Linked DNA regions of Homo sapiens. The protein of the gene in region 2 binds, or shares a complex with, the protein of the main gene of each other region. Each region holds a gene or a part of one and is shown on either strand. Other genes may lie near its edges.

What was found.
Region 1: TAF10 (region 2) and TAF4 share a complex: the UniProt entries of both Homo sapiens proteins name them as parts of the TFIID basal transcription factor complex.
Region 3: TAF10 (region 2) and TAF5 share a complex: the UniProt entries of both Homo sapiens proteins name them as parts of the TFIID basal transcription factor complex.
Region 4: TAF10 (region 2) and TAF11 share a complex: the UniProt entries of both Homo sapiens proteins name them as parts of the TFIID basal transcription factor complex.

Annotation. Positions count from the first base shown.
Region 1 is NC_000020.11:61,999,850-62,006,896, reverse strand, and holds part of TAF4 (transcription initiation factor TFIID subunit 4), read left to right. Parts: intron 1-138; coding exon 139-387; intron 388-3,018; coding exon 3,019-3,166; intron 3,167-3,622; coding exon 3,623-3,737; intron 3,738-4,268; exon of another isoform or gene 4,269-5,083; coding exon of another isoform or gene 5,084-5,750; intron 5,751-5,977; coding exon of another isoform or gene 5,978-6,150; exon of another isoform or gene 6,151-6,169; intron 6,170-6,175; coding exon 6,176-6,345; intron 6,346-6,642; coding exon 6,643-6,773; intron 6,774-7,047. Other genes in the region: uncharacterized protein LOC105372704, read left to right, coding at 5,084-5,750, 5,978-6,150. UniProt on the Homo sapiens protein: The TFIID basal transcription factor complex plays a major role in the initiation of RNA polymerase II (Pol II)-dependent transcription.
Region 2 is NC_000011.10:6,605,763-6,608,937, reverse strand, and holds the end of TAF10 (transcription initiation factor TFIID subunit 10), read left to right. Parts: coding exon of another isoform or gene 1-54; 3' UTR 55-147; coding exon of another isoform or gene 148-244; 3' UTR 245-448; coding exon of another isoform or gene 449-544; 3' UTR 545-726; coding exon of another isoform or gene 727-892; 3' UTR 893-2,644; downstream 2,645-3,175. Other genes in the region: scaffold protein ILK, read right to left, coding at 1-54, 148-244, 449-544, 727-892. UniProt on the Homo sapiens protein: The TFIID basal transcription factor complex plays a major role in the initiation of RNA polymerase II (Pol II)-dependent transcription.
Region 3 is NC_000010.11:103,370,932-103,377,978, forward strand, and holds part of TAF5 (transcription initiation factor TFIID subunit 5), read left to right. Parts: intron 1-2,426; coding exon 2,427-2,664; intron 2,665-7,047. UniProt on the Homo sapiens protein: The TFIID basal transcription factor complex plays a major role in the initiation of RNA polymerase II (Pol II)-dependent transcription.
Region 4 is NC_000006.12:34,885,043-34,892,297, reverse strand, and holds the start of TAF11 (transcription initiation factor TFIID subunit 11), read left to right. Parts: upstream 1-4,255; 5' UTR 4,256-4,340; coding exon 4,341-4,511; intron 4,512-6,266; exon of another isoform or gene 6,267-7,255. Other genes in the region: ANKS1A (ankyrin repeat and SAM domain-containing protein 1A), read right to left, coding at 2,699-2,895. UniProt on the Homo sapiens protein: The TFIID basal transcription factor complex plays a major role in the initiation of RNA polymerase II (Pol II)-dependent transcription.

The DNA.
Region 1 (7,047 bases), on a different chromosome or scaffold from region 2:
ACATGCTGCCGTGAGGGCCAAGATCCATCTTACTTAGCTCAAAAGCTTTCTGTAAAAGTTGATATTTCTGAATTTTTAAGCAAGGAAAACCGACGCATGAGCAGCCGCCTGACCCCTCGTGTCTGTCTTTCCACCCAGAGGAGCTTACCCGCCTTGAGACAGCTGACCCCCGACTCCGCGGCCTTCATCCAGCAGAGCCAGCAGCAGCCGCCACCGCCCACCTCGCAGGCCACCACTGCGCTCACGGCCGTGGTGCTGAGTAGCTCGGTCCAGCGCACGGCCGGGAAGACGGCGGCCACCGTGACCAGTGCCCTCCAGCCCCCTGTGCTCAGCCTCACGCAGCCCACGCAGGTCGGCGTCGGCAAGCAGGGGCAACCCACACCGCTGGTATGGAAGGGGCGCCTGACTGGTCTGCACAGCCCACCGTGCCTCTGCTCCCGCCCGCTTCTTAGATAAATTGGCCACGGCTCAGAAACCTTTTCCAAGCATGCAGGAAGCCTCCTGCTAGAGGAAGCTTGGGTATTACCTTAAATAGTTAAAATAGAAACCAGAGGTTGAGGCCCTGGGATGTTGTATTTTGTCTCAGTAAAATGAAATAGTTGAGTTGGCTTTGAACCACCGGCACGTCCCCGCCCTGCCTTGTCTGGGGATGTTACTGGTGTAAATGAATGCAGCGTGCTTTTAGAGGATCTTGTAGATAGATGTTCTCTTGGATTAGGAGCAGCGGTCCAAGCGTAAGACACGGGCACCTGCGTGGGACAGGTGGGCAGGAGACTGGAGGCAGGGTAGCAGCTCACAGCACAGGGTGGATTTAGGTGAGTCCCGGGAGGCGAAGCCGCGGCTGCTCATAGCGGTTCACTTATGTGCAGTTTGGATCTGGCTTTCTTGGTTTTATAGTCATGACGTTTGCTCTGCAGCTAGAGAAAGGATGTCTTTGCCAGAAGAATTACATTTTGAGCACATTCCCTTTCATGGGCAGAGGGATTCACCAAACGTAGAGGGGCAGTTTTAAAAAAATTTCAGAGGTGTTTTCTTCCTCTAAAGACAGCTTAAACAACAAAATGGTGCGGGCTCCCTCATCATGAGCTGGTATGTGTTGTGATGGTGTACACATCAGAACCAGCTGGGTGAGGAGTAGCCATTAGGGGGCTGGCTCTTGTGCTCTGTTCAAGTTGCATTTGTTTTTGTCTTGATAATAGCGAGGAGAACAGGGTGAAATGGCATGGAGGGAGGGTGTCCCTTATAAAGGCCAGGGAAGGGCTGAGCGCCTGTGTAAAGAGAGGGCTTCCTTGCCTGCCTTTTGACTCCAGAGGGAAAGAGATGTGCCGTGCCTCTTGCTTTAGTGTAAGGACAGAACTTCCCTGTTCACTAGTCAGTGGAGCTACTTTACCCAAAAAGGTGGGTTCTGTTTAAGCAGGCACAGCCTGTGGGCAATCATTTTCTTGCCAAGTTTTGACCTCTGGTGCTTAGTCACACACAAGCAGCATGGGTGTTTTTAGAATTAGGTGCTGTGTTTGGCAGCAGGATCACCTCTGCATTCTGCTTCCCTGGGCTCCTCCTGACCACGTGTGAGTCTGCAGAGCACAGCCAGTGGGATCCAGGGCATCCAATCCATTGCCTGCACCCTGAAGCCTGTGGAGGCAGAACCCAGGCTTCTCCCTGATTCGATGACAGGCTCCCTGCACCGCAGGGCCTGGCCCGGGCATTTGATGGCAGGTTCCCTGCGCCGCAGGGCCTGGCCTGAGCATTGCCTGAGCTGCCTGAGGCTCTTCCTGTCCAGTGTGGGTGTTCCTGTTTCGTTGGAGACATGTTTGCATTATAGGCCGCTTCCCCAGGTCCCCACACATGTTCTGCAGCATAGAGTTTACCTGCCAGGGCACCTTTGCAAAATGGTAGCGACTAAATTCTGAAGCACCTGGGCCCAGAGGTTTGAGGCCAGGCCTTATGGACTTGAGCATTGGCTTTTGACAAGGATGCCAGTGTCTCTAGGCCCCAGCATCCTGGGGACAGGGCCAGAGCATAGGCCATGGTCAGTGCTGCCAGGTTTTGGATCTCTGCCTTGTGCCGGAGGTGAGAGTGAGAGGCAGGATGACAGCAGAGCTGGGCAGACCCTGCCACGAGGGGCCCAGCAGGGGCTGGGCGGACAGAGCTGGCCATGCTGGGAGCAGTGGGTGGAGGCCCTTGAGGGCCAAGTTCAGGCAGGACTTAGGAACTCTAACCCCACTCCAGTAGAAAAGCCCTCAGCCGCCTTACAGAAAATTCAGAAAGGGAGCTGGGTTTGGTAGCTCATGCCTGTAATTCAGCACTTTGGGAGGTCAAAGTGGGAGGATCGCTTGAGCCTAGGAGTTCAAGACCAACCTGGCCAATGTGGTGAAACCCCATCTCTACAAAAAAAAAATTACAAAAATTAGCCAGACATGGTGGGTGCCTATGGTCCCAGGTGCTCGGGAAGCTGAGGTGTAAGATCACTTGAGCCCGGAAGGCAGAGGTTGCAGTGAACCGAGATCATGCCACTACACTCCAGCCTGGGCGACAGAGCGAGACTTGTCTCAAAAAAAAAAAAAAAAAGAAAAGAAAAGAAAAAAGAAAATTCAGATGAGATAGAACCACTTGACCTGTAGCCACCAGGCAACAATGTCACCTCTGCTAATATTTGGGGGGCAGTGGTCTGCTCCATCCTGGGTTGCTGAGGTCAGCAGGCATCAGTTTGCCACCCGCCCCCTCCAGGCCCTGACCAATGCCCAGGGGCAGCTTCTAGGCAGCAGATCTGCTCCCGCTTGCCCCTTCTGTGCTCACACGGGCACCCCTCGCCCACGTCCTGCCCTGGTCTGGCCGAGTCCATGGCCAGAGCATGGTCCTGCAGCCTGCTGGGGCTGAGCTGCACACGGGGTCTTCCTAGGACTTCTTACTGGGGGCGTGGGGTGCAAAGGAAGGGAAGGGAAGAACCTCCTGCTAGGGACTGAGTGGCCCCTGGCCCTCGGGGAGCATGCTCACCATTCTCTGCTGGCTCTGCCTCAGGTCATCCAGCAGCCTCCGAAGCCAGGAGCCCTGATCCGGCCCCCGCAGGTGACGTTGACGCAGACACCCATGGTCGCCCTGCGGCAGCCTCACAACCGGATCATGCTCACCACGCCTCAGCAGATCCAGCTGAACCCACTGCAGCCAGGTGAGGGCCTCGCGGGCCCCTGGCCGCTCAACACCAAGGGCTGCTCCCAGAGCCAGCTGCCATTGGGCTTTTATTTAATTGGGTAAAATGTACATTTACATAAAATTGGCCATTTTAAGTATCTAGTTCAGTGGCACTGATTTCATTTACTGTGTTGTGTAACCATCACCACTGTCAGTATGATTTTTAATTTTATGTATTTTCCATGGTTAGCTTCTTTATCTGTAATCATTCCTGCACTTTAAAAACCTTGATGAAATACAGGAAAATAAATGCTCGAGAGGTACAGCTTACACTTTGTACTGTAATTTAGAGTTATTAATATGAAGTTTTTGGAAACTTTCTTGTAGCTAATTAGGAGAGTGGTAGCTGTGCCCTTGAGCCTGTAAAGCACCAAAGCACATAGTTGATCTAATAAAAGCCTTGTGTGGTTTCCACTGTGTGTTTGTTTTGTAGTCCCTGTGGTGAAACCCGCCGTGTTACCTGGAACCAAAGCCCTTTCTGCTGTCTCGGCACAAGCAGCTGCTGCACAGAAAAATAAACTCAAGGAGCCTGGGGGAGGTTCGTTTCGGTAAGGAATGGGCCTGTGTACGTTGGAGAAGCGTGGCCAGAGCGGAGAAGAGTCCAGAGTCCGTGCTGCTCCATTCCCGCCCACGGGTCTTTCCCACGTGGCCCTGGCGGCCGGGGCTCCAAGGCTCCTGCTTCACGCTCACTTTGACCTCACGTTCACACAAGTGTGTTTTCCCATACAGTTGGCTCAAAGAGGTTTTGCTTCATACACATAGCCAGAAAGCGAATCAACTGATTATTTTTATATGAACTAATAGGAAATTCATTTTTTAGTATAACATCGTATTTTGAGTTCATTGCATTCCTAGTATAGAATGCTTCACTTTCCATGTATTCAACTTCAGAACCCTCAGAAATGCTGTACTGCTCCAGGCGTAGTGGCTCACGCTTACAGTGCCAGCACTACAGGAGGCTGAAGTGGGAGAATCGCTTGAGCCCGGGAGTTTGAGACCAGCCTGCACAACATAGTAAAACCTTACTCAACAACAACAAAAAATAAAAAATTAGCCAGGCTTGGTGGTGTGTGCCTGTGGGCCTAGCTACTTGGGAGGCTGAGGCAGGAGGATCACTTCTGCCCAGGAGTTCAGTGTTACAGTGAGCTATGGTTTTAGCAGTGTACGCCAGCGTCGGTGACAGAGTGAGGCCCTGTTTCTAGAAAAATAACTGCTGTGCTTTGCCTGGGCCTCCTGGAAAGCAGGTGGTCTGAGCATCACCTCAGTCAGGGAGGTGCTTATGGGACCTGAGCAGTGGGAGAGTCTTGGAGTGATCTCTGTTGTGATCAAGGGGCGGTGGAGTTGTGTGTATTTCAGGAAGTCTTACTGTGAATTTTCCCTTTCCCAGACACTTCATCCCTAAAGGCATCAGGCAGGGCATAGCAGGCCTGGGGAGTGGCTGTGGCCTGAGCCAGAGTCCCAGCCCAAGCAGGGAGAGGTGGCCAGCATGCCTGGGCCCAGCGTGACGCTGATACTTCAGTGAGAAGGGAGGGCACTTAGGGACATACACGGGTGAAAGAATTAATCAAGGCTGCAGGAAGCCTTGGTATTTTGCTGTCAAGGAGTCAGCGGCCTGGCAGAAGGGATAAAGGAGAGTGACCCCTGTGGGCTGGCTCAGGATTGGAATGCTGACGCAAACCCCTGGGTTTCAGTGTGTCGGCAGGCATGGATAACCATGGGTCTTGCCGTAAGTTTCTAGCTTTGTTCACCGCAGGGTCCTGGGAACAGTAACGCCCCAGTAACACTGAGCACACCTAGTGTTCAGATGTTGTCTTCTAAAAACCGTTTTCCACTAAAATGACAAGGACTCCTGAGAGAAAAGGCTGATTGCGGGACTGGGATAAGGAAATACAAGATGAGCGGAGACCGTCCTGTGTCAGAGAGCAGTGGACATGGGCATGACGTGGACGTGGATGTCAGCAGAGCAGCCTCCCTCCCATGGCCGGGTCCTTCAGCTGGAGCCCTAAGCTGTGCAGCCCAGCCACAGCCCGTGACCACCAGGGATGCCAAGACCCTGAGTGAGCACCTGGAGCCCATAGGAGGACTGGGCATGAGAACTGCTGTAGAGCTCTTCCCCGAGACACAACGACCCCAGGAGACGCCAGGCAGGCCCCCGGCCTCACGTTCAAAGCCCACTGCTGGAGGCGGCAAGTGGAGGCTGCGTGCATGTGGAATTCCCGGCAGGACTCTTAGCTCACATCTCCTCACGAGGGGGCCGAAGTCAGCCTGGAAGAGGACGTCCTGCACACAGCTGGCCTGTGCCTTCCAGGTGTCAGGGGCAGCCCAGGAGTCAGGAGAGGCTGAGGAACCTTCCAGCTTGAGGAGCCGGACAAGACGTGGCAGCTGGGATTGGGATGCAGACTGTCCTGCAGGGAGAGGCGCTGCTGGGACCGGGTCCTACGGGGGAGGGCCTGGGGAGGGGCCATTCATCATGGCCCGGTCTCAATGGCATCCTGCTTCTGGAGGGGATGCCCTTGTCTGTAGGAAACACGTGCAGAATGTTCCGGGTGGAGGAAAGTCAGGTTAGCAACTTTCAGGTGATTCAGGAAAAAATTGTGCGTACTCTTCTTCCAACTTCTGAGCCTTTAAAAAGAATTTAATGCTGCCTCTGGCTTTAAAAAGCTTTGCATAGATCAGACCCCCACAAGTCCCCGCGCTGCTCCCGGCTTTGCTTTCTCTGGACTTGAGTCCCCTGCGCATCTGTGTGTAGATGTTAACCCGGCGCCAACTCACAGCTCTCCTTCCGCAGAACAATCGAGCTTTCCAGGAAAGCAGCGAGGCACCCTCTCTGCTGTGGCAGATGCAGCAGGTGCAGGTGCGGGGAGGACAGAGGCCTGGCCTCCTCACGGCCCTGCCTTCCACGTGGGGTTTCCTGCCCTTACCACCCCAGCCCACCTCCCGATGAATTCCTTGTACAGTTAAAGTGATCTTCCCTTCTTTCCTCAAGGGACGATGATGACATTAATGATGTTGCATCGATGGCTGGAGTAAACTTGTCAGAAGAAAGTGCAAGAATATTAGCCACGAACTCTGAATTGGTGGGCACGCTAACGCGGTCCTGTAAAGATGAAACCTTCCTCCTCCAAGCGCCTTTGCAGAGAAGAATATTAGAAATAGGTACGTTGGTGTTTAATGACTGAGTTCTTATTAAACAGCTGCGCTGCTGGGGCATGGGAGCTTCAGGTGAGCACACCTGACACCTGGTCATGTGTTTTGTCTGAGTTTGTGATTTCCACATGGTTGCTGGTGGTGGTTCTTGGGTAAAATATGGGTACCACTGCCTTCCACCCCACCAGCCTTTCTGGGCTCCCCTTGGGTTGTATAAAAGCAGTAACTGCTGGATCAGAGATTAGCCGTAAAGAAAGAACTGTGCTTAATGATTTTAAAATACTGTTTTTCTTGCCTGACCTTTAGGTAAAAAACATGGTATAACGGAATTACATCCAGATGTAGTAAGTTATGTATCACATGCCACGCAACAAAGGCTACAGAATCTTGTAGAGAAAATATCAGAAACAGCTCAGCAGAAGAACTTTTCTTACAAGGTAACAGGCTGTTTGCCGAGGAGAGCGTCTTTATGTTGTTGGCCCCCACTCTCTGCTGGCTGGGAGCCTCCTCCCCACACCGAGGCAGAGGGCGGTGGGTCCCAAGTGCCTCCATGTTCCTTACGAACGTGTTTTGGATTTCTTATAGGACTAGATTTTGGAAAGATTTCTTTTTGAGGTAGGGTCTCACTCTGTTGCCCAGGCTGGAGTTCAGTGGCGCAGTCTTGGCTCACTGCAGCCTCCGCCTCGTGGGTTCAAGCGATTCTTGTGCCTT
Region 2 (3,175 bases):
ATGTGTCCTTGTATGGAATACGGTTGAGATTCTGGCCCATCTTCTCTGCCCGCTCTAGGGAAGAAAAACAACCTAAGCTGTGGTACAGAGGGAGAAGACAGGTGGGAAGGGACGAGAGGACACAAGCTAGGGGATGGGGAGATGGACCTCGGAGAAGCTCTCTCAGGGGTGCCTTGGCTTTGTCCACAGGCATCTCTCCATACTTGTTACAGATGCTGACAAGGGCCCCATTTGCCACCAGGTCCTGGAATGAAAAGGCCATTATGATGAGAGCCACTGCTACCTCGCTGGCAGTCACTGAACCAACCATGAATGCACAAATGTAGAACTTAATCCTGTAAGTGTCACACAGTAGTACTGACAGAATGGGTTGAGGGTTCCAAAATCTCCCACCAAGGCTCAGACTTTACTTCCTACCCATCTCAGGAATTAAGGGCTGAGTACTCACCTCTGCCACTTGATCTTGGCCCCAAAAACAGGCATAGTGCAGGGGCACATTCCCGTGTTCATTCACTGCATTGATGTCTGCCTTGTACTGCAATAGCTGGACCCCATGGCCAGACAAAAAGAAGAGGCAGAAAGTACAGTCAGTTCCAAATGAGATACTGGTGTCAGGGCATGGGAAAAGGGGGAAGAGCACACATGCTTTCTACTGTATGTTACAGTGCCTGTGACTGACCCTCATGGCATGTATGTGATGTGGATGACGAAGGAGTTTGTACGTACCTTCTGTACAATATCACGGTGTCCATGACTGGCTGCCAGATGCAGGGGGGTGTCATCCCCACGGTTCATTACATTGATCCGTGCCCCCCGCATGATCAACATCTCAACCACAGCAGAGCGGCCCTCTCGGCAGGCCCAGTGCAAGGGGGAGAAGCCATGATCGTCCCTTTGAGGAAGGGGCAATGGTCATTGAGCTGGAGGTGGGATGGGGCAAAGGTTTTGATTCCTGAAAAACTGATAATTACATACTCTCTGGGAAGGCTTACCTCTCTAGGACTTTGATTCTCATTCATGCCAGCAACTCCCAAAGCTGTCCATTTCAGACCTTCCCCTGAGCTTCAAACCAAACCAACCACCTAGATATCTCAACAACCTCTATAAAAAAATGTGTTATCTTCACCATATCCCACATCTCATTTCCTTAGGTGGTAGTGCTCTTCCCCTGGTTTCTCTTGCACCCCTTCTGCAACATCTATTGGTCCTTTCTGTTTTCCACCACATCTTATATGTCCCCCTACTTCAGCACTTGTTGCACTGGATTGTAAAAATCTGTTAATGGACTGTCTTGTCTGTTAGACCTTTAAGTTTCTTGAGGGAATGGATTGACAGCAGCTGTTCAGTGCATGTTAGTGGGGGAGAAGGGTGTCTTGGAGAAGGCAGGCCACAACTTATAGAAGAGGGAACAAACTTACTATTTGGCTCTGGTACTGAAACTAACATCTAAAAATGGAATGGAATTTAAATGATGTTTTGGAAGGGTTTATGTTGAAAAGGAGAAATGCTTTTGACTACTGATGAGGTAGATAACAAACCACCATGCAAAGCAGGATTCCCCTACTTAGCAATCCTGTGCATAGAAAACAGAAGAAAATGAGAATGGCTGTTTTGGGATTAAAACTATACCTGATTTTTTTCTTTTCCAAGAAATATGTATTTTATAAAGTAAAGTATACAAACAAAACAAAACAATTGGTTTGGAGCTGGGCCTGCCTGACAGCCTGGGGCCATAAAAGGAAATTCCCTCCAGTTCGGGGCTGCAGATTCAAGGGGCGGAGCAGGGGGCGGTCCGTGGTCTGGGCCAGCAGCCTCCGGATGCCTTAGTGTTGTGGTCACTTCCTGTGTGCGACTCTAGGCAAGGCCTGGAGCTGATCAGGGGTCTGGCCATCCAGATGCCCGTACAGCTGAAGGGGTTGGGGGGTGTGGCCTTTAAGTTAATCATTTTCCTCCACAACTTGCTCGCATCTGCTAACACAGAAATAGCCAAAAGCTTTTCCTTGAGATGGGATTATCCCCAGGAAGCATTACGCCCCCTGTTTATCAGTTGGTCTTGCCTCCTAGACCTTTAATTTGTGCCCTGACTTATCAGCTTCCAGTACTGCCTGTGGCGCCAGGGCAGGCCAAACTCGGGGGGCAAAAGTATGGGCACAAGGGTTCTGTTCACTATCAGGCTGCCTGCCACCTCAGGGCCTGGACTTCTATCTCAAGAAGACCTGCAAGGAATTAACCCCCTCTTCATATCCAGCATATAGCCAACTTTGGCCCCCATACTTTACTCCTCAAACCAGCACCACAACCTTCCAGTTTCATTAATTCCACCCCTTTTCCTTCTGGCAGCATCTTCCTAGAGTCTTCCTAGACTCAGCTAGAGTCTTCCTAGATGCTAGGCCCACTGGGCAACTGCCTAAGCCTCTATTTCCTCACCAACAAAACAGTAACAGTGCTTACTGTCTTTATCAGGGTACCCTTTGAGAATTATATGAAAAATGGAACAAATGACTTTGCAAAGTATTAAAGAGAAATAGTGTAGAACCTAATGGGAACCAGTGAAGTCTAGACTAAGATGACAGGTGATCCTGACCTGTCAAACCTAAAAACTAAACTCCACCAATTTTAAAAAATAAAGAATTTGATTTTGCCACTCTGAGTCACCATCACTACTGCTCTTCTTGCCTTCCTATCTCAGCCAACCTTGTAGAACTGGTGTACATTCACTTTCACTATTTGCTCACCTCTCAACTTTTGTTTTCTTTTTCTTTTTTAAGACAGAGTCTTGCTCTGTGGCCCAGGCTGGAGGGCAGTGGCATGATCTTGGCTCACTGCAGCCTCTGCTTCCCGGGTTCAAGCAGTTCTCCTGCCTCAGCCTCCGAGTAGCTGGGATTACAGGCGCACGCCACCACGCCTGGCTAATTTTTGTATTTTTAGTAGAGACAGGGTTTCACCATGTTGGTCAGGCTGGTCTCGAACTCCTGACCTCGTGATCCACCAGCCTCGGCCTCCCAAAGTGCTGGGATTACAGGCGTGAGCCACCGCGCCCGGCCTACTTTTCAATCTGCCACAAATCTGCTGTATCGAGAGCAGAGATTATGTCAGATTCTGGACTCTAGCACCCAGCACAGAAGGTGTTCATCATAGTGCCTTAAATTAAGGAACCCAATGTAGTCTGATTTCT
Region 3 (7,047 bases), on a different chromosome or scaffold from region 2:
ATAGAAATGTGTGCAGATGTGATTGAAGGCCGGGCTCGGTGGCTCACGCCTGTAGTCCCAGCACTTTGGGAGGCCAAGGCGGGTGGGTCACTTGAGGTCAGGAGATCAAGACCAGCTTGGCCAACATGGTGAAACCCCATCTCTACTAAAAATACAAAAAAATTAGCTGGGCGTGGTGGCATGTGCCTGTTGCCCCAGCTACTCAGGAGGCTGAGGCAGGTGAACCACTTTAACCCAGGCGGCAGAAGTTGCAGTGAGCTGAGATCAAGCCATTGTGCTCTGGCACGGGTGACAGAGCAAAACTCCGTCTTTACAAAAAAAAAAAAAAAGAGAGAGGAATCTTTTTTGAATGTTGAATTTTGTGAATGAACTATAAGATGAATTATATTGTTGGTTATTTTGCTGTAATCTCAGATCTCTTCAGAAACTTGACCTAATTATAGATCATAACTGAGAAATCAGTAAGGAGGAAAAGAGGCCATCAGAGTAACCAAAGAAATTATCACATTTCTGCAGTAAAGAGCAAAGTGTACTATAATGGCAACTTACAGAAATTTCCAACAACCAAATTCTGATTTAATTGACAGATTAATTGACTGATTTAATTGACAGATGTATTGTTAGGTGGTGCTGTATTACCAATAAATACTTACGTTTTCTGTTTTGAAGTGGTGGTTATGGAAATTGTCTTAAGCATATAACTATCTTTTGAAGATATAAATAAGGCATGGTCCTTCCCACCCTTAAGTACTTACATTTTGTAAGGGGTAAGAGATGTATATAATGTGAAGGGAACACAGGATAGGATATGTTACAAGAATGTTACACAGTGCTTGGGTGGCCCAGAGAGCTGGGAATGTTACTGCAGTGCATGGCTTGGTCGTGGTGGGTGCCATTTGCACAGAGCATTGAGAGAAAGTTAATGTAGTTGTTTGATTTGCACATATCTTTTATACAATTTGTCTTTAACATCAGGTAGTTCCAGGAGAAATACTGACTCCTTGTTATTGTTTTTTTTTTTTTTGAGACGGAGTCTTGCTCTGTCACCAGGCTGGAGTGCAGTGGAGCGATCTTGGCTCACTACAACCTCTGCCTCCTGGGTTCAAGTGATTCTCATGCCTTTGCCTCCCGAGTAGCTGGGATTACAGGCACGTCTCATCACACCCAGCTAATTTTTGTATTTTTAGTAGAGACGGGGTTTCACTATGTTGGCCAGGCTGGTCTTGAACTTCTGACCTTGTGATCTGCCCGCCTCAGCCTCTCAAAGTGCTGGGATTACAGGTGTGAGCCACCGTGTTGGCCTGTTATTGTTATCTTAAGATATGGGTGTGCTGATGGGTTTCGGTTTGGGTGATGAAACAAGTGAAAAAAATTCCATTAAAAGATTATGGCTGGGCGCGGTGGCTCGTACTTTTTTTTTTGAGATGGAGTCTTGCTCTGTCGCCCAGGCTGGAGTGCAGTGGCGCGATCTCGGCTCACTGCATCCTCCACCTCCCGAGTTCATGCCATTCTCCTGCCTCAGCCTCCCGAGTAGCTGGGACTACAGGCGCCCACTACCACGCCTGGCTAATTTTTTGTGTTTTTAGTAGAGACGGGGTTTCACTGTGTTAGCCAGGATGGCCTCGATCTCCTGACCTCGTGATCCACCTGTCTCAGCCTCCCAAAGTGCTGGGATTACAGGCGGGAGCCACCGCACCCGGCGGCTCATACTCGTAATCCCAGCACTTTGGGAGGCAGGTGGATCACTTGTGGTCAGGAGTTTGAGACTAGCCTGGTCAACATAGTGAAACCCCGTCTCTACTAAAAATACAAAAATTAGCTGGGCATAGTGGTGCATGCCTGTAATCCCAGCTACTTAGGAGGCTGAGGCAGGAGAATCGCTTGAACCCGAGATGGGGAGGTTGCAGTGAGCCGAGATTGTGCATTGCACTACAGCCTGGGCGACAAGAGTGAAACTCCATCTTAAAAAGAAAAAAAAAAAAGACTACGTGGGCCAGGTGTGGTGCCTCATGCCTGTAATTCCAACACTTTGGGAGGCCGAGGCGGGAGGATCACAAGGTCAAGATATCAAGACCATCCTGGCCAACATGGTGAAACCCTGTCTCTACTGAAAATATGAAAATTAGCTGGGCATGGTGGCACACGCTTGTAGTCCCAGCTACTTGGGAGGCCGAGGCAAGACACTCGCCTGCGAGGTGGAGGTTGCAGTGAGCCGAGATCTCCCCACCGCCCTCCAGCCTGGCGACAGAGCCAGACTCCCTCTCAAAAAAAAAAAAAAAAGATTATGTGATTGTGTTGAGGAAGAGACAGTGGGAAGAAAGAGACAACAGTCTGAGAAACAACTCACCTGTGGGCTTTAACAATACAGCCATAGTCACATGGTCATAATAGGTCATTTTCTTAAAAGTTTTTTGTTTTTTAAATAGTTGGAAGTGTTGCTGTGGAAGACCAGCCAGATGTCAGTGCCGTGTTGTCAGCCTACAACCAACAAGGAGATCCCACAATGTATGAAGAATACTATAGTGGACTGAAACACTTCATTGAATGTTCCCTGGACTGCCATCGGGCAGAGTTGTCCCAACTTTTTTATCCTCTGTTTGTGCACATGTACTTGGAGCTAGTCTACAATCAACATGAGAATGAAGCAAAGTCATTCTTTGAGAAGTATGTAAATTTTTACATATATATATATACACACATACGTAGTGTGTGTGTGTGCGTGCATATGTTTTCACATCTGTAACCACAAAAATGTAAGACTGCAACTTAAAAAGTACGTTGTGAAGGAGAGGTACCTGAGGCTATGAGAACTTAAAATGTGGGGTTTGATCTAGCTGGAGAAGTCAGAGAAGGCTTCCAGAGGAAATGATACTTGAAGTGAGATTTGAGATCTGAAGATTAGGTAGGAGTTAACCAGATGAAGAGAAGAGGGAAAAGCATGTGTAAAAGCTCTCTGGTGGGAAGGATCCTGGTAGGTACAGAGGCTGAAAGATGGCCAGGGTAGCTGGAGCAGAGAATGGGATGGGGGTGTGGTATACTATGAAGCTGGGAATTGGTTAGGGACTGGAACAGTAGGCAGGTTCTATTGTTAAAGTGAAGGCATTGAAAAAAAAGGATAGGCAGGTTTTTGGGCCATGTTGAGGGTCTTTGTTTATCCTAAGAGCAGTAGGGAGTTGTATTGGATAGGATTAGATTTGGTTGAGAGTCACTGAAAACTCATCAACAATGGCATAAATAAAAGTTTATTTTTGCCTTTATCTTAAGAAAACTAGGAAGCAGTGTTAGGATTCGATTAGAATAAGAGTAACTGAGAACCCAAACAACAGAGGTTTAAATACAATAAAAGTTTGTTTATTTTTCTCGTAAATGTGGGACATTCGGGATTGGTGTGGTGGGTTCTTCATTACCAGGGCCCCAAGCTCCCTCGGTCTTGTTGCTCTCTCATGCTTTTCATGCAATTTCCACCTTGTGGCATAAGATGGTTTTCCTGCTCTAAGCAGTCACATCAGTGTGCCAGTCAGCAGGTAGGGCACACGGAAACTGCACACACTTCTTCCTTTTATATCTTAACAGTCAGTGGCCACACCTAGCTACAAGGGAAATAAGAAATGTAGTCTTTACCTAAGTGTCTATGTGCCCAGCTGATATTCAGGTTTTCTTTTATGGAGGAAGACAGGAAAAATGGATATTTGGGGAGAGCGAAGCCTTTTTGCTACAGAGTCATTTCTGCTACAGAGTCATTAAAGGACCATGTCGTTATTAGATATATACTTTGAAAGGACCTTTATGCAGTGGGGAAAACAAATGGGGGATAGAATGACTATAGGGACAAGTTTTGGAAGTTATTGCAGTGGTTCTCAACTGGAGGTGGAATTGCTCCTTCCACTAGACCATTTGAAAATGTGTAGAGGTGGCCCGGCGCTGCGGCTCACGCCTTTAATCCCAGCACTTTGGGAGGCTGAGGCGGGTGGATCACTTTGACCTCAGGAGTTTGAGACCAGCCTGGTGAGACCTAGTCTCTTCAAAAAAATGCAAAAATTAGCTGGGTGTGGTAGCTCACTCCTGTAATCCCAGCTATTTGGGAGGCTGAGGCTGGAGAATCGCTTGAACCTGGGAGATAGAGGTTGCAGTGAGCTGAGATTGCATCTCTGCACTCTAGCCTAGATGACAAGAGTGAGACCCTGTCTCAAAAAAAAAAAAAAAAAAAAAGAAAATGTGTGGAGGCATTTTTGGTTGTCATAATGACTGGGCGGAGGAGCAGGAATACTAAATGTTCTAATATGTGCACCTAGGTAGTCCCACTTTACAAAGAATTATCCTGCCCAAAATGTTAATAGCACCCTTATTGAGAAGCACTGGACTAGGTTGTGGTGGAGGTGAAGAGAAGTAGACAAAGTCATGAGACACTTGATAGATTGGCTAGGGAGGTGAGGGAGATGGAGATATCATTGAAATCTCCAGTTTTCTGGCCGTTCTAGCTGGATAGGGGAGCCAATTCCTGACACAGAAAACCCTAGAAGAGGACTTGATTTGTCAGCCTTGGAATAATTTTGAGTTCTGATTTGAATATGCCTTTGACTCATTTAAGAAATGTCAAGTTGATAGGTAGATGATATATGAGAGCTCAGAACAGAGGTAGGGACTAGAACTATTAATTGGAGTTGTGTGCAATATTGATGGATATGGATGAGGTTGACTAGGGGAGAGTATGAAATAAGTCAGTCAGTGGGCTAGGCCCAAGGAGCTCCAAATTTAATGGCCAAGTAGAAGAGATACACAGGAAGAAAACCAGGGGAGGGCTGAGTTATAGAAGCCAAGGGAAAGGAGTATTTAAGAAGGAGGCAGGCTGGGTGTGGTAGCTCATGCCTGTAATCCCAGCACTTTGGGAGGCTGAGGTGGGCAGATCACCTGAGGTCAGGAGTTTGAGACCAGCCTGGCCAACATAACAAAACCCTGTCTCTACTAAAAATACAAAAATTAGCCGGGCGTGGTGGCAGACACTTGTAATCCCAGCTGCTTGGGAGGCCGAGGCAGGAGAATCACTTGAATCTGGGAGGCAGAGGTTGCAGTGAGCTGAGATTGCGCCATTACACTCCAGCCTTGGCGAAGAGTGAAAGTCTATCTCAAAAAAAAAAAAAGGAGGCCGTGCTTAGCAGTGTGAATAATTTTTTTTTTTTGAGATGGAGTTTTGCTCTTGTCACCCAGGCTGGCATGCAGTGGCGCCATCTCGGCTCACTGCAACCTCCGCCTCCTAGGTTCAAGCAATTCTCCTGCCTCAGCCTCCCAAGTAGCTGGGATTACAGGCATGCATCACCATGCCTGGCTAATTTTGTATTTTTAGTAGAGACAGGGTTTCTTCATGTTGGTCAGGCTGGTCTTGAACTCCCGACCTCAGGTGATCTGCCCACCTTGGCCTTCCAAAGTGCTGGGATTACAGGTGTGAGACACTGGGCCTGGCCTGAATGAGAAATGTTTAATACAAGCAACAGAGCCTGAAGTCAAGATTTATCACTTAACACAGGGTAGTAGTAATAGAGGAACAGTAGAACTTAGCACCCCTGGCTTCTATGCCATTATAGTAAATTCATTATATTAGGATGCCTAATAGGAAGTATATAAGGCAAAATGTTCTGTAGCCAAGTGCTTTTGAAAAAAAAAAAAATAAGAAAGGCTGATGACAGAACTTCTACCCTAGAAGCTAATTTCTCTTTAAAGTACTGTCATCTAAACACTCCATCCTTGGCAACATAGATACTGTCACTTAAAAAAACAAAAACATAGCCTGGGCAAAAGAACGAGATCCTGCTTCTACAAAAAGTAAACAAAAATTGAGCCGGGCATGGTGGCTCATGCCTGTAATCCCACACTTTGAGAAGCCAAGGCGGGCAGAATGCCTGAGCTCAGGAGTTCGAGACCATCCTGGCCAACATGGTGAAACCCCATCTCTACTCAAATACAAAAGATTAGCCAGCCATGGTGGCACGTGCCTGTAGTCCCAGCTGCTCAGGAGGCTGAAGCATGAGAATTGCTTGAGCCCTGGAGGTGGAGGTTGCAGCGAGCTGAGATCGCGTAAACAAAAATTAGTGGAGTATGGTGGCACAGCAGTCCTAGCTACTCGGGAGACTGAGGCAAGAGGAATCCCTGAACCCAGGAGTTTCAGGCTGCATTGAACCACTGCACTCCAGCTTAGGCTTCAGAGCAAGAACCTGTCTCTAAAAAAGAAGGAAAAACCTTTTTGCTCTTCCTGTCTCATGGTGTAGCTGTCTCCCCACATAGGAAGCTGGAACGTCATAGGGGATTCTCTGTCTTCCCATTATGGACAGTCTCACCCCTTGCCAGGACCCCATCACCACAGGAGGATAATGGGCAGTTACTGATATAAGAGGCTGAGATTTCTAATTTTATTCAAATCTTAGATCATATATTGATGAGTTGTAATGGGGTAACATAGTTAACAGTTTAGAAATCTGTTGACTATGTGCTTATCAGAGCTGGAGCCCTAATATGTTTAGTCATTGTTTTAAAAATGTTTTTGCATTGATTGCTGTTTTTAGTGAATGCCAAATATATTGTCTTTAATTTTATTTTCTTAGGAAAATTAAGCGTTGTAAAAACAAAAGTACATTTAAGTTTACTAGTTGTTATCAAGGCTAAAGGCTTTATTTTATTGTCTTTGGTAATAGTTGTTGATACCAAACAATGAGTACTTCCACTTTGTTGTTTAGTGATCATATTAAAGTATTGATATTTTAAAAATGTCTGGTACATGTTTCCAATAAATATAGGAAATCATTAAAAATGATGGGTTTTATGAGAATGTTATATATTGATTATTGTTGAGATGCTGAGTACTGTGTACATTGAGTTCATTATACTCTTTTTTATGCCTTTGAAATTTTCATAATAAAACTTTTAAAAGTGGGTTTTGAGAAACCATAACATTTAGTAAAGCAAGGGTTCTTATATTTTCAAATGTCTACCAGTTTCTTTTAAATGTCTCCATTCTAAAGAAACTGTCTACCAATGGTGGGTATATTATTTTTCACT
Region 4 (7,255 bases), on a different chromosome or scaffold from region 2:
TGGTCTCATTTGCTCAGAAATCTTTTACTAGCTTTAACCAGAGTCACCTCTAATTAGTGTAACTAGTGCCTCCAGATCCTCCCTGCCCCTAGGAGTCACAGGAATGAGAGGTTGGGAAGCTATTAGGCATTTACCCTCTCTACAAAAGACACAGAAGCAAGTCAAGGTGAGCCAGCTCTCTAACTCTAGGGAATAGAGAGTTAACACACTTTATGGCAGAGACAGGACACATCAGCAAGAGGCCCAAAGTAGAAGCATTGTGCTCAACAGGTTTCCTAGTCTTGCTTAACTATATTAACTATATGGCAGTTAAATCCTCAGCAGAATTTCAATAGTCTCCGAGTGAGCGCACTAAGAATAACTTGACCTGAGGCCGGGCAAGGTGGCTCACGCCTGTAATCCCAGCACTTTGGGAGGCCGAGGCCGGCGGATCATGAGGTCAAGAAATTGAGAACAGCCTGGCTAACATGGTGAAACTCCATCTCTACAAAAAATACAAAAATTAGCTGGGTGTGGTGGCGCTTGCCTGTAGTCCCAGCTACTTGGGAGGCTGAGGCAGGAGAATCGCTTGAACCCAGGAAGGCGAAGGTTGCAGTGAGCTGAGATACTGCCACTGCACTCCAGACTGTGGACAGAGCGAGACTCCGTCTCCAAAAAAAAAAAAGAATAATTTGACCTGTGTTTGAGGGTGGGAGATATGAGAAACTTCTCACTTTAGCAGGATATGCTGAGGGTTAAGATATCTCTGGAAAATCTCCAAATGCTATGTCATCAACTCATTAAAGACAGAGGCATCTCCAAACCTGTACAGTCTTGTCACCTCTCAGACATCAGAACTGCAGAGTGGCAAATCCAGGTAAGATTCAAAACCCAATTCATGCATTCACTGTACATTTATTAAACACCTGTAAGTTGTCAGGCACTGATCTAGGGACTGAGAATATAAACATGATATATGGAAGTATACCCATCCATTATTATTTACCTTTATTATGCCCAACCTCTCAAGGGTGCAGGCAGGAAGTTCTTCTCCTGTTGCCTAAGGAGCACCAAATAAGTCTCCATTCTCATTTCTGTGCCTCTGATCATGGGGTACCCACCTGAAACATGCCCATCATAACTCACCTACCCAAATCCTCACATCCTTCAAGGCCAGCTTAAGTCTCCCTCCTTTTGGAAGCCCTGACTTCCACTCCATCCCTAAATGATGTCTCTGTTCTCTGAGCTGCTAGCAATTACAGCGAGTAATACCATCCACCATCCATTTATTTAGAAATTTATTGTCCTGCAACTGATACTTTTATTTCTTCAACAAATCTTAAGTACCTACTTATATTGCTTTTTAAAATCTTCCTGTAAAGACCTGGGTTGGTACTCAGTGCTTAATATCTATTAATAACAATTTATTAGCGCCTTAGGCTTATATGGTCCAAGCTCACTCAAACTGAAGTTACATAAAGTAATGGGGAACAAAAGCTAACGAAGGCATTTCTAAATGAACTTCCACTTCTTAAAAACCTCAAAAGAACAAGGAAGGAAAAAGAAATCAGGCTATGAAAGCGCTGCTGAACTAACACATTTAACTCACACTAACAAAGCACCCCCAATCCCCCTTCGAAGCCACACAAAACTGATGTTTTTCCCTCGGTCCTTACAGCTCCAGATTGAAGCGTTTAACAACAGACCTTGGAAAAGTTTACAGCATCCTTCGGTTTCCTAAACAAGTCTCTCTGCCTTTATTTCTAGATGAATAAGCCCCTGGATGAATCCTGCATATGCCACTTAGACTAATCCAATGAGGTTCACTACAAGGAACTACAATTTGAACTTCAAGCACAAGAGAGGCTCAAAGACGAACATCTTGAAAATGATACATCCAGAGGCAATTTTAATAAAACAAAAGCGAGGGGCCAGGCGCGGTGGCTCACGCCTGTAATCCCAGCACTTTGGGAAGCCGAGGCGGGCGGTTCCTGAGGTCAAGAGTTCGAGACCAGCCTGGCCAATATGGTGAAACCCCGTCTCTACTAAAAATACAAAAATTAGCCTGGTGTCGTGGCGGGCGCCTGTAATCCCAGCTACTTGGGAGGCAGAGGCAGGAGAATCGCTTGAACCCGGGAGGCGGAGGTTGCAGTGAGCCGAGATCGCGCCACTGCACTCCAGCCTGGCTGACAGAACAAGTCTCCGTCTCGAGGGAAAAAAAAAAATAAAGCGAGGTCCTGTGTAGCCTGGTGGAAGGTTCCAAGTTCCTCAGAGAAGAAAATCAATAGAATTTCCTCCAGAGGAGCCTCGAGATTCTACAAGGCGTAGGAGTTTCTGCAGGAGGTGAGGGAGATCTCATATATATATATATAAGATATACATATTTGCTCTTAATTGGCTTTTGTGAGCTACGATAGCTGGCACCCTGTAGCGAGCGAGAGTGAACCCTGGCTGTGCCATGCGGCGGAGGCTGCCACCTGGGCACTCCCACCATTCTTCGCAGCCGGGTCAGAACGGGAGACCAGGCGAGCCCGGAGCAGCGTGGACTCGGACCTGCGCGCCCTCCGGTACCCTGGCCCGCGGGCCGCCTGCCTCGCCCCGGGCACGCCACAAGCCCACCCCGCCCGAGTCTCAGGACCCCCGATCTCTCTGGGGACCCAAGAGACGGGTGGGGGAGAAAGGGTCTGCAGGCAGCGGCCCGGCCCTGGCGCGTACCCACCTGAGCAGACTGGAGAGGGGGTGGCTGGAAGAGCCGAGGCCGCCGCCGCCGCCGCCGCTGCCGCCGCCGCCGCCCCCAGAGCCACCGCCGCCGCCGCCCCCAAAGCCTGAGGAGAGCCGCTTCCCGGACAGCAGCTTCTCCACCGCCGGGAGGTGCCCGGTGCGGGCCGCCTCCAGCAGCTCCTGCTCCTTCCCCATCCCCAGGGCCGCCACCCGCTGGACCCCCTCCCCGAGGCTGCAGCCGAGCCTGCTCGGGCTCCCAAACTTTCCGTCTCCGGGCAACGCACCCCCCAAACCGGCTGGGGACACCACCCCCTCCCTGCCTTTTCCCCACGAGCGCGTCACTTCCGGGATCCGGCGTCACGCGTCACCGCGCCCCCGCGCCCCGCCCCCTAGCTCACCTAGCTGGGCGGGGCTCCGCGGACCAGCGCAGGTGGACTTTGCTGTGCCGAGACACGCCTCTCGGGGCATGGGGACAGCGCCTTGTGGGCCCCCATTATGCAGGTGGAAAGGGACAAACAGGCCCACCTGTACGCGCCTCCCGAAGTGCGCTCCTTCCCCAAAGGTTTTGGGAGCTCCTGGGACAGGAAATACGGTAATTCGTCCAGGCAGCGTAGAAACAAAGAGATAAATGTAACGCGCACCTACATTTCCAAGTCCATTCTTTCAGCACGCATAAATTAAATATGTAATAGGTGCGGGGACCTAGTCATACCCAGGTGAATAAAACGCCCTCCCCCTCGTATCTCAATGAGGGAAGAGAAGAAAATTTTAAAACAGAAATATCCTCACCACTTCATCCTCCCAGTACGTGAACTAGTTCATTAAAGTGAAACGTTCAAAGGAGACACCTTCCTCTCTTTAGGCTTTCCTCTTAGTTTTAATGAGATTAACCAAACTGATAGAAAAGTGTCAGACTTGTAAAAACAAACCTCAATCTTCAGTACTGGCGAACTGAAAAAAATCATTTAATTGGGTAGAAACTATGTGTGTTTTGTTCCCTGGTACTAGCACTGTTTCTAAATCGAAGTAGGCAGTCAATAGTTGTGGATGAATAAATGAATTGGATAAATTCTGCTCGAGCTATATGACTTTTTGTTGTTAAGGTGCTTGCGGAATGGAGGGGAAATGCTAGCAATTCTATGTACACACAGGCCCGCGGTTTCGGGCCAGTTGAAATATACAAGGTTGAGTCCTTGCCTGAAAGTTTACCAGTCCCGGGGAGCCTCATTCCACGACACCGCCATACAACGGAACTGAGTTTTCTCCCAGTCCCCCAACTTTACTCTGAGGGGTTAACGAAGGGATTAACTGACATTGCATTTTTAGACAGGCGAAAAGGAAAAAGTTATTTAGTAAACAAAACTGCGCTCCTTCACAAGTGCTGGTTTCCTAGCGAGGAGGATCCATAGTCTGAGCTCTTTACGTCCAATTTTCCCGCTTCCCACTGTCGCCAAACCAAAGTTAAAATGAGTCCTCTAGTCCTCTACGCGCGCCTCAAAATGACCCCTCAGGAGAGCGGTAGGGGTGATGTCATCGCTGCGCGACGACAGGAAGTAAGATCCTGGCCTGTGCAGCTCGGGTTTCCGAGCTTCTGCCTCAGGCATCTCCGCGATCTCCTCTCCCCTCCAATCCTATCCGTGATGGACGATGCCCACGAGTCGCCCTCCGACAAAGGTGGAGAGACAGGGGAGTCGGATGAGACGGCCGCTGTGCCCGGGGACCCGGGGGCTACCGACACCGATGGAATCCCAGAGGAAACTGACGGAGACGCAGATGTGGACTTGAAAGAAGCTGCAGCGGAGGAAGGCGAGGTAGGAAGAGATGTACTGATGAGGCTGAAGGAATACCCAGAGATTGTGTTACTGGCTGCTCGCCGGGCTTCTGGTTAGTCCCTAACAAGTTACGAGAACTCGAACTCACCAGAATTCCCTCCAGATCGTTAATCTTGAGGGGGAAGAGAGGGGACGACCAAACAAAACTCCAGTGCTGGTTCGGTTCCAGAGGCTCAAGCACTGTTAATATTTTTAGTCTTGTCTTTAGGGATTAAAGCTACTTCTAAGGGAGTTATAATAGCCCGTTGGCTTTGGTGGTGAGGAAATTGGGATCCAATGTCACACTGAGACGTAGTGCAAGAGCTAAAACCCAGGATTCGTAGCACCCCTTTCACCGCAATATGGTTCCTCTTAGATGTTAAGACAACTTTTGTCTTTATAGGAAGGAGGGTCGATCAGACCTGTCAAAGGGAGATAGACTTTTATATCGAAAAGTCTATATCGATATAGACTTTTATATCGAACACGATTTAACCTGAGAGTCGCCCGGGCTGGAGAACAATGGCGCGATCTCTGGCCCACTGCAACCTGCGCCTCCTGGGTTCACGCGATTCTCCTGCTTCAGCCTCCCGAGTAGCTAGGATTACAGGCGCACACCACCATGCCCAGCTAATTTTTGTATTTTTAGTAGAGACGGGGTTTTACCATGTTGGCCAGGCTGGTCTGGAACTCCTGACCTCGTGATCCGCCCGCCTCGGCCTCCCAAAGTGCTAGGATTACAGGCGTGAGCCACCGCACCCGGTGATCAGGGACCCATCAATTGGGTCTGGTGTTTTTATGCTACAGAGAGTTCAGCAGTGTTGCCTAGCTGAGTATCGGTCAGGACCAGAAACTCATCGTTCTCAGGATTACATTTCTAGAAGTAGAATCTTGGGGTCTTACAGCTAGAAGGGATTTAAGAGATCGTGGGTGAACAGTAGATTAGATGGAAATAGCCTTTCAGAGCATAAAGTTGCATCAAAATGTATAAAGTACAAACTTTTAGAAAAAGAGAAAATTTGTCTGGGCGTAGTGGCTCACGCCTGTAATCCCAGCACTTTGGGAGGCCGAGGTGGGTGGATCGCCTGATGTCAGGAGTTTGAGACCAGCCTGGCCAACATGGCGAAACCCCGTCTCTACTAAAAATACAAAAATTAGCTGGGCATGGTGGCGGGCGCCTGTAATCCCGGCTACTTAGGAGGCTGAGGCACAAGAATCGCTTGAACCTGGGAGGCGGAGATTGCAGTGAGCCGAGATCGCACCACTGCACTCCAGCTTGGGTACCAGAGACTCCGTCTCGGAAAAAAAAAAAGAAAAGAAAAGAAAGAAAAAGGAAAAGAGAACATTTGACAAAAGTATTTTAAGGCAGGTTTTTTGTTTGTTTTTTGTTTTTTGTTTTTTGTTTTGAGACCGAGTCTCGCTCTGTTGCCCAGGCTGGAGTGTGCAGTGGCGTGATCTTGGCTCACTGCAAGCTCCTTTAAGGCAGTTTTTGTTTGTTGAGACAAGGTCTCACTCTGTCACCCAGCCTGGAGTGCAGTGGCACAGTCTCTGCCTCCTGGGCTCAAGCAATCCTCTTATCCCAGCCTCCCCAGTAACTGGGACTGCAGGCATGCTGCACCACGCTCATCTAAAGTTTTTGTTTTGTTTTGTTTCGTTTTTGAGACAGAGTCTCGCTCTGCCGCCCAGGCTGGAGTGCAATGGCGCAATCTCGGCTCACTGCAACCTCCGCCTCTCAGGCTCAAGCGATTCTCCTGCCTCAGCCTCCCCAGTAGCTGGGATTACAGACACGTGCCACCGCGCCCAGCTAATTTTTGTATTTTTAGTAGAGCTGAGGTTTCACAAGTTTCACAAGTTGCCCAGCCTGGTCTTGAACTCCTGACCTCATGATCCATCCGCCTCGGCCTCCCAAAGTGCTGGGATTATAGGCATGAGCCACCGCACCCGGCCAGCTAAAGGTTTTTTAAATATTGTTTTGGTAGAGACAAGGTCTTATTATGTTGCCCAGTCTGGTCTCCAACTCGTTGGGCTCAAGCAATCCTCCTGCCTCAGCTTCCCAAAGTGCTAAGATTACAGGTGGCAGCCACCATGCCTGGCCAAGAAGGAAACTTTAAAACAGGTGTCAAGGACAGCAAGGATTTGAATAATTAGCTTAGTACACAGAGGGCTCACTACATATCTAAATTTGCACCGAACAGAGGATAAAATTATGTTGTTTCTGAAACACTTTTAAAAATCGATCATGTACCAGACCACAAAGAAAAATATGAACTCTTAAAAGTAGAAATCATAACAGGCCACATCTTGTTAATGTAATGCATTAAACTTGAAATTAACTACAAAAAGCTTCTCCCCCACCAAAAAAGAACTAACCCCCTGGAAATTTTAAACTATTTTTTAAATAGCCTTTAGACTAAAGAAATTAATAGAACACTTTATCAAAGTATATGGGATTTGGCCAAAGCTTTATTTAAAGAAAAATATATAGCCTTACATATTTTTATTAACAGCCAGAAGATATTGCAAATAAGCACCTAACTCAAGAAACCAGAAAAAGGGCCTAGTGGAGTGGGTCACGCCTGCAGATCTAGCTACCTGGCAGGCTGACACAAGAGGATCACTTGAGGCTTCAGTGAGCTATGATCCAGCCTGGGCAACAGAGCGAGTCTGGGGGAGAAAAAAAAGATAAAGAACAAAATAAATCAGAAGAATGTAGGAACAAGGAGTTAATAAGGATAGAAGTAGAC